Linked DNA regions of Homo sapiens. The protein of the gene in region 1 purifies or fractionates together with the protein of each later gene. This does not show direct contact. Each region holds a gene or a part of one and is shown on either strand. Other genes may lie near its edges.

The links. Proteins that work in one complex are often made in the same cells at the same time.
Region 2: the proteins of CALR3 (region 1) and FAT1 purify together in Homo sapiens (affinity purification with mass spectrometry, with the first as the bait; one large-scale study listed by BioGRID). This does not show direct contact.

Annotation. Positions count from the first base shown.
Region 1 is NC_000019.10:16,485,385-16,490,657, reverse strand, and holds part of CALR3 (calreticulin-3 precursor), read left to right. Parts: intron 1-87; coding exon 88-291; intron 292-5,273. UniProt on the Homo sapiens protein: During spermatogenesis, may act as a lectin-independent chaperone for specific client proteins such as ADAM3. Required for sperm fertility. CALR3 capacity for calcium-binding may be absent or much lower than that of CALR.
Region 2 is NC_000004.12:186,713,336-186,718,608, forward strand, and holds part of FAT1 (protocadherin Fat 1 isoform 1 precursor), read right to left. Parts: intron 1-5,273.

The sequences.
Region 1 (5,273 bases):
GGAGTAAGGGAAGGACATCGATTTAACTTCCTGCGTTACTTAGCGCAGCGTCATTCCTGATCCTTCATGAGTATATTTTGTTCAAAGGTCTGCAAACCACTCAGAATGGCCGATTCTATGCCATCTCTGCACGCTTCAAACCGTTCAGCAATAAAGGGAAAACTCTGGTTATTCAGTACACAGTAAAACATGAGCAGAAGATGGACTGTGGAGGGGGCTACATTAAGGTCTTTCCTGCAGACATTGACCAGAAGAACCTGAATGGAAAATCGCAGTACTATATTATGTTTGGTGAGTTTACGTGGTGCAACACAACCACTTCTAGTGACTTTGAAAACCCTCCCACTTCACAGGATCTTTAGACTAAGACTTTGCTAATGTAGTGAAGGTAGTAGTATTGAGTATATCGGATCCAAGGTTTGTAGTAGTATTGAGTGTATCGGATCCAAGCACTATTAAGCCTAATTAATATAAAAAGGCAACTGTACCAGTCTGTTGTGTTCCTGAAGAAGTTATTTATTCACCATTAATGTTGCCCTCATGCAGGGTAAGGATACCTTATCTGAAATGTTTGGGACCAGAGTGTTTTGGATTTTGGAAATTTTTTTTGGATTTTGGATTATTTGCATTATCCTTACTGGTTGAACAACGCTAATCTGAAAAATCTGAAATCCACAATGCTCTGATGAGCATTTCCTTTGAGCATCATGTTGATTCTAAAAGTTTTGGGTTTTGGAACACTTCAGATTTGCGATTTTTTGATTTGGGATGCTCAACCTGTGTAGTTTTTTTGTTTGTTTGTTTTTGTTTTTGTTTTTGTTTTTGTTTTTGTTTTTGTTTCGAGCCCGAGTTTTCACTCTTGTGAACCAGGCTGGAGTGCAATGGCAATGGCTTGATCTCGCCTCACTGCAATCTCCGCCTCCTGGGTTCAAGTGATTCTCCTATCTCAGCCTCTTGAGTAGCTGGGATTACAGGCATGTGCCACCATACCTGGCTAATTTTTTTGTATTTTAGTAGAGATGGGTTTTTTTTTTTTTTGAGACAGAGTTTCGCTCTTGTTGCCCAGGCTGGAGTGGAATGGCATGATCTCGGCTCACTGCAACCTCCTCCTCCCAGGTTCAAGGGATTCACCTGCTTCAGCCTCCCAAGTAGCTGGGATTACCGGCATGCACCACCATGCCCAGCTAATTTTTGTATTTTTAGTAGAGACGGGGTTTCTCCATGTTGGTCAGGCTGGTCTTGAACTCCCGATCTCAGGTGATCCGCCCACCTCAGCCTCCCAAAGTGCTGGGATTACAGGCGTGAGCCACTGCACCCGGCCAAGATGGGGTTTCACCATGGTGGTCAGGCTGGTCTCGAACTCCTGGCAGGTATCGAACTCCTGACCTCAGGTGATCCACCCACCTTGGCCTTCCAAAGTGCTGGGATTACAGGCGTGAGCCACCACGCCTGGCCTCAACCTGTGTTTTGAATCCTTCAGTACTCAGTAAACCTTGGCCGTGGGCCAAATTGGCCCACTGCCTGTGTTTATATAACCTGTGAACTAAAAATGTTTTTTACGTTTTTAACTGGTTGGAAAAAATCAATACAAGATGATATTTTGTGATACATGAAAATTATATGAAATTTAGATTTCAGTGTGCATAAATGAAGTCTTACTGGAATGCAGCCTCACTCTGTTCATTTATATGTTGTCTGTGGCTGCTCGCCAGTACCAGTGGCAGAGTTAAGTTGTCATGACAGAGATCATTAGGCTTACAAAGCCAAAAATATTTTACCATCTGGCCTTTATAGAAAAAGCCTGCAAACCTCTAGAAAATATTAAATGTCTCCTGACAACAGGGGTACTTGATTAAAATTTGTGCTAGAACTGGGAAGGGACCACACTGGGCCACAGGAAATAGACCTAAGTATAGTGTAACTTAAAACTTTAATAATAAATGTACCTCAGGCCGGGTGTCGCGGCTCACACCTGTAATCTCAGCATTTTGGGAGGCCAAGGTGGGCAGATCACTGGAGTTCAGGAGTTCAAGACCAGCCTGGCTAACATGGTAAAACCCTATCTCTACTAAAAATACAAAAAAAATTAGCCGGGCATAGTGGCACATGCCTGTAGTCCCAGGTACTCAGGAGGCTGAGGCAGGAGAATTGCTTGAACCTGGGAGGTGGAGGTTGCAGTGAGCCGAGATCTCACCACTGCACTCCAGCCTGGGTAACAGAACGAGACTCCATCTCCAAAAAAAGAATGAATGTACTTCCAAAATATTCATCCTCAGCTGGGCACAGTGGCTTATGCCTGTAATCCCAGCACTTTTGGGAGGCCAGGCAGGAGGATTACTTGAGTCCAGGAGTTCGAGACCAGCTTGGCCAACATAGTGAGACCCTGTCACTACAAAAAATAAAAATTAGGGCTCTGTGCGGTGGCTCACGCCTGTTATCCCAGCACTCTGGGAGCCAGAGGCGGGCGCATCACCTTAGGTCGGGAGTTCGAGACCAGCTTGACCAACATGGAGAAACCCCGTTTCTATTAAAAATACAAAATTAGAGCCGGGCGCGGTGGCTCACACCTGTAATCCCAGCACTTTGGGAGGCCGAGGTGGGCAGATCACGAGGTCAGGAGATTGAGACCATCTTGGCTAACACAGTGAAACCCCGTCTCTACTAAAAATACAAAAAATTAGCCAGGTGTGGTGGTGGGCACCTGTAGTCCCATCTACTCGGGAGGCTGAGGCAGGAGAATGGCCTGAACCTGGGAGGCGGAGCTTGCAGTGAGCTGAGATCACGCCACTGCACTCCAGCCTGGGCAACAGAGTGAGACTCCGTCTCAAAAAAAAAAAAAAAAATTGAAAATTAGCTGGGCGTGGTGGCGCATGCCTGTAATAATCCCAGCTACTCAGGAGGCTGAGGCAGGAGAATCACCTGAACCTGGGAGGCAGAGGTTATGGTTAGCCGAGATTGCACCATTGCACTCCAGCCTGGGCAATGAGAGCAAAAATCCGTCTCAAATAAATAAATAAATAAATGATACAAAATACAAAATAAAAATAAAAATAGAACTAAAAAACACCCAGATATCTGAAACATCAAGGGAGGATCACTTGAGCCCCGGAGTTTGAGACCAGCTTGGGCAATATAGCAAGACCCCATCTCTACAAAATGTTTTTTTTTTTTTTTTTGTGGAGACACAGCTTCGCTCGTCGCCCAGGCTGGAGTGCAACGGCACGATCCCGGCTCACTGCAACCTCTGCCTCCCAGGTTCAAGCGATTCTCCTACCTCAGCCTCCCAAGTAGCTGGGGTTACAGGTGCCCACCACCATGCCCAGCTAATTTTTTTGTATTTTTGTAGAGACGGGGTTTCACCATGTTGGACAGGCTGGTCTCGACCTACTGACCTCAGGTGATCCACCCACTTTGGCCTCCCAAAGTGCTGGAATTACAGGCGTGAGCCACCACGCCTGGCCCCATCTCTACAACAATTTTAAAAATTAACCCAGTGAGGTGGCGCACCCCTGTGGTTCTAGCTACTCAGGAGGCTGAAGCAGGGGAATCCCCCGAGCCGAGGAGTTTGAGGATGCAGTAAGCTATGATCACACAACTGCACTCCAGCCTGGATGACAGAATAAGACCCTGTCCGAAATAAATAAATAAATAAATAAAGACCCCTATATAGCATGTGTCTACTACATCTGAATTGCCAAGCAGCATAATTTGGGGTCAAAAAAAGATTAAAATAAATTTTTCTTAGTATTTCAGTTTTTAATTCAACAGTTCCATTTTACTCAAACCCACTCTGTTACTATTGGGACACTTTGTTGCAATGAGTCAGCGCCAGCCATTAGTGTGAGGGGAGCTTGCTGAGGGTGAGGGGTTAAGGAGGAGGACAAGGGAAGCACAGTTATTGTCAGTCTTGACATTTGCATGAATTCCTATGCATAAGTTATGCATAAAACCTCAGACAGGCAACACAGAGCCCATCTGTCTACATTTCCTCATGAACATCCATTACATGTGTAAATACCTTTTTTTTTTTTTTTTTTTGAGATAGAATCTTGCTCTGTCACCCAGGCTGGAGTGCAATGGTGCAATCTCGGCTCATTGCAACCTCCGCCTCCCAGGTTCAAGCCATTCTCCTGCCTCAGCCTCCCCAATAGCTGGGATTACAGGCGTGTGCCACCATGGCTGGCTAATTTTTGTATTTTTAGTAGAGGTGGGGTTTCACCATGTTAGTCAGGCTGGTCTCGAACTCCTGACCTCGTGATTCACCCGCCTCAGCCCCCCAAAGTTCTGGGATTACAGCCGTGAGCCACCATGCCCAGCCCACACTTTTTTTTTTTTTTTAATTGAGACGGAGTCTCGCTTGGTCACCCAGGCTGGAGTACAGTGGCCCGATCTCAGCTCACTGCAACCTCCACTTCCTGGGTTCAAGTGATCCCCTCACCTCAGCCTCACAGGTCCCTGGGACTACAGGGACACGCCACCACTCCCAGCTAATTTTTGTATTTTTAGTACACACGGGGTTTTACCATGTTGGCCAGGCTGGTCTCAAACTGGCCTCAAGTCATCTCCCCACCTTGGCCTCCTAAAGTGCTGGGATTAGCAGGCCACTTTGAATATTTAAATAAGCTTCAGAACACACTCAAAAGTGAGTGGAAAGCCAGGACATTGTCCTTTAACAACAATAATAAGATATTCACACATGTGACCAGATGCAGTGGCTCACACCTATAATCTCAGCACTTTGGGAGGCCAAGGCAGGCAAATCACTTGAGGTCAGGAGTTTGAGACCAGCCTAGCCAACATGGCAAAACCTGTCTCTACTAAAAACACAAAAATTAGCTGGGCCTGGTGGTACATGCCTGTAATCACAGCTATTCTACTCGGGAGGTTGATGCAGGAGAATCACTTAAACCCGGGAGGCGGAGACTGCAGTGAGCCAAGATCCCACCACTGCACTCCAGCCTGGGCGACAGAGTGAGACTCTGTCTCAAATAAATAAATAAATATCTTAGTGTGAATATCTGATTATATGTAAGAAGAATGGACTGCACGTGGTGTTTCAAGCCTGTAATCCTAGGACTTTGGGAGGCCGAGGCAGGTGGATCACAAGGTCAGGAGTTTGAGACCAGCCTGGCCAGCATGGTGAAACCCCATCTCTACTAAAAATACAAAAATTAGCTGGGCATCGTGGCATGCGCCTGTAGTCCCAGCTACTCAGGAGGCTGAGGCAGGAGAATTGCTTGAACCCAAGAGGCAGAAGTTTCCGTGAGCCAAGA
Region 2 (5,273 bases), on another chromosome or scaffold:
ATCTGACGTTTCTCTCCTGATTAGATTGGGGTTCTGTTTTGGGGAGAAAAGCCACAGAGGTAGAGTCGTTTCCACCACACCGTAGCAAGCGGGTAAAATCAACACGATTTATCGATGTTGACGCTGCTCCTGACCACGTGACTGAGGTAGTATCTGCCAGGTTTCCTCACAGTCAGGTTACTTTCACCCCTCCCTGTACTGTATTCTTGGTAAGGAAGTCACTGCATGTAGCCCATTCTTAAGAGACAGAGAGTTTCGCTACTCAAAATATTTATAATTCTTCTAGAAACTGATTTGTCTATCTTCCTCCATTTATTTATTCAATTTTTTTTCTTTTTTAGACAGAGTCTCGCTCTCTCACCCAGGCTGGAGTGCAGTGGCGCGATCACGGCTCACTGAAGCTTTGAGCTTTCCGGGCCCCCGTCTCAGCCTCCTGAGTAGCTGGGACTATAGGTGCGTCTGTAGATTTAGACTGACAGAATTTTACATACTCAGGAACCACCAGCACGCCTGGCTCATGTTTGTATTTTTTATAGAGACGGGGTTTCACCACGTTGCCCAGGCTGGTCTCAAACACCCAGGCTCAAGCGATCTGCCCAACTCGGCCTCCCGAACTGCTAGGATTACAGGTGTGAGCCACTGCATCCAACCTGAATCTTTTTTTTTCTCAAGATCCGTCTGGACTCATGGATAAAGGACAATTTTTAGGACTTTAGAGTTTAGTATGAATCAAATGAGAAGTCCCCCAGCGGATTCTGAACCGAGGAGTGCCACGGTCTCAGTAAAATGGAAAAACCTGTGGGCAGCCAGGGCAGAAGCTGGAGGGCGACCAGAGCAGTCAGAGGCTGCAGCCACAACACAGGTGGAGCGCGTGTGGGCTGGGGCACAACGGGGGTGGGGGGCAGATTGTGAATCTATTTCAAGGTTGCCTGATGCTGGAGTGGGGAGAGGGAGGGAAAGGAGGAGAGAACAGTACCAGAGAAGATGCCAAAGACTGCTCAGCGTAGAGAACAAGGGGGCCAGGAACCGAGAGGGAGACAGGAGGAGAAGCAGCCTCAGGGAGCAGATCGGGAGGTCAGTTTTGGACAGGGTAAGATGGGAACAGCTACGGGCTATCCAAGTAAAGATTGTGAGTGGGCAGCAGATATGTGGGAGACTCCAGCCGGCAGATAGAAATTTGAGAGTTGTCTAAATATGAAAGACGGTATTTAAAACCACAGAACTGAATGAGATCACCAAGGAAGAGAGCAGGCAGAAGAAAAAAAAAATCCAAGAGCAGAACCCCAAGATTTGAAGGGTCCAAACGGGAGGCCCTGACAGGGGAGATGTCGGCCACTGAGGGAGGAAAGGGAACCACAGCATAGTGGTGTGATAAGAAACAGTGAGTAAATAAAGATTTTTCTACAGCTGAAGCCTAACATTAGAACTTGGAGTTCTATATAATATAAATACTCACTAATCCAGCTGGGCGCGGTGGCTCACGCCTGTAATCCCAGCACTTCGGGAGGCCGAGGCAGGCGGATCACGAGGTCAAGAGACCGAGACCATCCTGGCCAACATGGTGAAACCCTGTCTCTACTAAAAATACAAAAAGTAGCTGGGTGCGGTGGTGTGCGCCTGTAGTCCCAGCTACTTGGGAGGCAGAGGCAGGAGAATCGCGTGAACAAGGGAGACGGAGGTTGCACTGAGCTGAGATCGCACCACTGCACTCCAGCCTAGGTGACAGAGCAAGACTCTGTCTCAAAAACAAAAAAAAAAGTACTTGCTGATGCGCCACGCTGCTTCCCCCTCCATCCCCCCACCAGAAGGCTCTGGCACTGTTCCATCCCCTAAGACACACAGACCATGGCCAACACGTCAGACTGCTTTGGCTGTTCTCTCCCCATGCTGTCCCAGGTGCTCAGTCCCACCACAGCCCCCACCACCACCCACTCATCCCCAACTGGATTCCCAAACATGCAATTACCTTCCACATCCTACTCAGCAGTTCTCACGGGACACAATACAGCTGGGACGGACTTGTGGACCACATTCCTAACTGAAATCTTTGAAAAACCTGAATGTACTCTGCAAACTTGGCTAACAGAATGCTACTGTGAGTAGAATAAATTATTAAATGAAAAAATACACTTTTTGGAAGACATTGTTAACCGTGCAGTAATGTAACCAAGAACCACGAATTCAGGTTTCACTATAAAAACCACCCTGATCAAAACAATGGCTGTGGCTCTCATGCAAAACAAACAGTAAAGCTGAAGCGGGGAGAGACTCCAACACCATTTCATCTAAAAAGGACCTTATCGCCTAGACTCCTTTGCTTATGGAAATTAAACTCCAAAGACCATCTGAGCCAAGGGCTATACTTTGATATTTAGAAGGTGATCACACTACTTAAACTCACTGCAATTTGGGATTTCTAAAATGCATTTTCCGAAGCCAAAACAAAGAGTGTTTACTTAGTCTAGCCTTGAAGGAGAAGGGCTCCCAGTCTAAAGCTTAAATATCTTTAGCATAGATCTCTGAAAATCTATAAATACGGCAGAAAAATAACTTTTGCAGTAAAAATCAGATATTAATATCTTCATATTTCTTCATTAGGGAGACCTTCATGTAAAATGCTTCCATCAATTACTGTGACTGCACATTCTTCACAAAACAGAACACAGCCCCTGTGCTGAAAACCTAACTGCATATATTCAAGTGTTTAGATGACCTCAAGCTCAAGTCTTCGAAGGGTTTCACACGCCACAGAGACAGGACATTAGGTGAGACACAGCATCACACAATGCACCAATTCTGTTAAACGCCGCATATTTATTACTGAGCGGTCACAATTCTTACAAGCACAAGTAGTCATTCTAGCCTTTATGGAACAGGACATTATTAAACTTTTCATTTCACATGTTATGATAAAAACACAAAATTATTAAGTTGAGAACTCTGTGTTCTCCCTCACTGTGCTCTTCTCCACTCTCATTTTCTATCAACATAGTGAAAGCGTCAGTAGAATTTAACTCATGATTAAAATTTGGAATTTCGAGTTCAGTTCAGTGTCACATTTTTAAAGTATTTTTAAGAGATCTCTAAATTGCAAGCATCTTTCTTCCCCCGAGACAGGGTCTTGCTCTATCTCCCAGGCTGGAGAGCAGTGGCACCATCATAGCTCACTGCAGCACCAACCTTCCAGGCTCAAGTGATCCTCCCGCCTCCGCCTCCGGGGTACCTGGGCGTACCACCATGCCCAGCTAATTTTTTGTATTTTTGTAGAGATGGGGTTTCACCATGTTGCCCAGGCTGGTCTCGAACTCCTGAGCTCAACTGATCGACCTGCCTGGACCTCCCAAAATGTTGGGATTACAGTTGTGAGCCACTGGGCCTGGCCGGCAAACACATTTTCAAAGCAGGATCATGAAGTTGTCAAGAGATTATGAATTGTAAACGAGTTTTTTTGTTTGTTTGTTTGTTTTGGAGACAGTCTTGTTCTGTCACCTAGACTGGAGCACAGCGGTGCAATCGTGGCTCACTGCAACCTCTGCCTTCTGGGTTCAAGCGATTCTCATGCCTCAGCCTCCTGAGTAGCTAGGAATACAGGCATGCACCACCATGACCAGCTAACTTTTGTATTTTAGTAGAGACGGCCAGGCTAATCTCGAATTCCTGGCTGCAAGTCATCCACCCACCTCAGCCTCCCAAAGTGCTGGGATTACAGGCATGAGCCACCGCACCCAGCGTAAATGGCTTTTTAAAAATACTGTATATTAAAAAGAATGTTGAATGATTTCTAAAATTTCAGACATTCCAAATAAAATTTACAACAGGAAAAAAAAAACTCTCTATTTTTCTAGTTCAATTATCATAGCCATGTCGGTACTTTTAAAAGCTTTCATCCTTACACTGAAATACTAATGAGTAGATCCTGTTTATTTTCTGGGTGTACACTAATTCTTTTCAACCCATCTTCATATGATTTTCAGCATGAACGGAGGAAGCTGTGACCCTAGAAATTGAGCAGCAGCCTTAGGCTTGGTATATGTCATTTAATCACTTCTGCTAACTCCATTTATATGTTGTTATCTTTGACTGGGGCTGCAATAATCTGGTAACTCTAGCAAGACATACTTTAAATATTGCCTTCACATGATCAACCACCGGTTCCAATTTAACCCTGAGAATGGTCTTTACTGACAATGACAGTGTGGAACTACAATCTGGCTTTTTCAGAAAACTTCACCATGTACATGATTTAATCAATCCAAAATAGATTCCTGAAGTGTTCCTGCCCTTAAGAAAGATAAACAGATGTCCTATTTTTCAAACAGCCTCTATATAAAACCTAGTTATCTACATGAACCTATAAAACATGTCTGTTGGCATTACGAAGATGACGGGTTCTAGTTGTTCTGTGCTCCTGGGAACGACAAGACAGGACAGGTAGGCAGCGGCTGTGTGTCTATTTCTGGCAGGGTGAGGCATTCCTGTGCTATTCTCTTCTTTCCCCTCTCTATATATTCCTTATCCTCCAACCACTTTCTCCTCATCCACATTCCAGGACAAACTTTGCCCAAGGAGAAGCTCAATGGACTGTTGACCTCTTGTGAATGGAGATCATCTCATCTAATGTATTTTTCTCCACAAACAGAAGTAATTTAAATGACATCTTGGCAGAGTAGCCAATAATCAACAATGGCCACTTCTTCCACTCCCAAGTTGGTAAGTAAGACTTTATTTTATACGTTGAATTGGGCTCCCTGTATAATTAGATTCGGTCAACCCTTCACTAAATGACAGACCAGGAAAGTGAATGTTCCATGTACAGCAAGAAAACGGAAATCTTCAGGGAGAAAAGTCCATCTTCCCTCCTCCTCTTAAAATGTTCTCTTCACCTGTTCTCTCTTCTTACACCTCAGAAGAGATGCCACCCACCCTAGCTGCAAATAAAGATACTCTGATACCACAAAATCCTGCCTCTTCTACAGCTCCTCCCACTCCTGACACCTTGTGCAGAATCCATACACACACACAGGTTCTTCTCCTACTTAAAAAATAAGCTTGGCCAGACACGGTGGCTCATGCCTGTAATCCCAGTACTTTGGGAGGCTGAGGTGGGCAGATCATGAGGTCAAGAGATTGAGACCATCCTGGCCAACATGGTGAAACCCCGTCTCTACTAAAAATACAAAAATTAGCCGGGCGTGGTGGCATGCACCTGTAGTCCCAGCTACTCAGGAGGCTGAAGCAGGAGAATCGCTTGAACCCGGGAGGCGGAGCTTGCA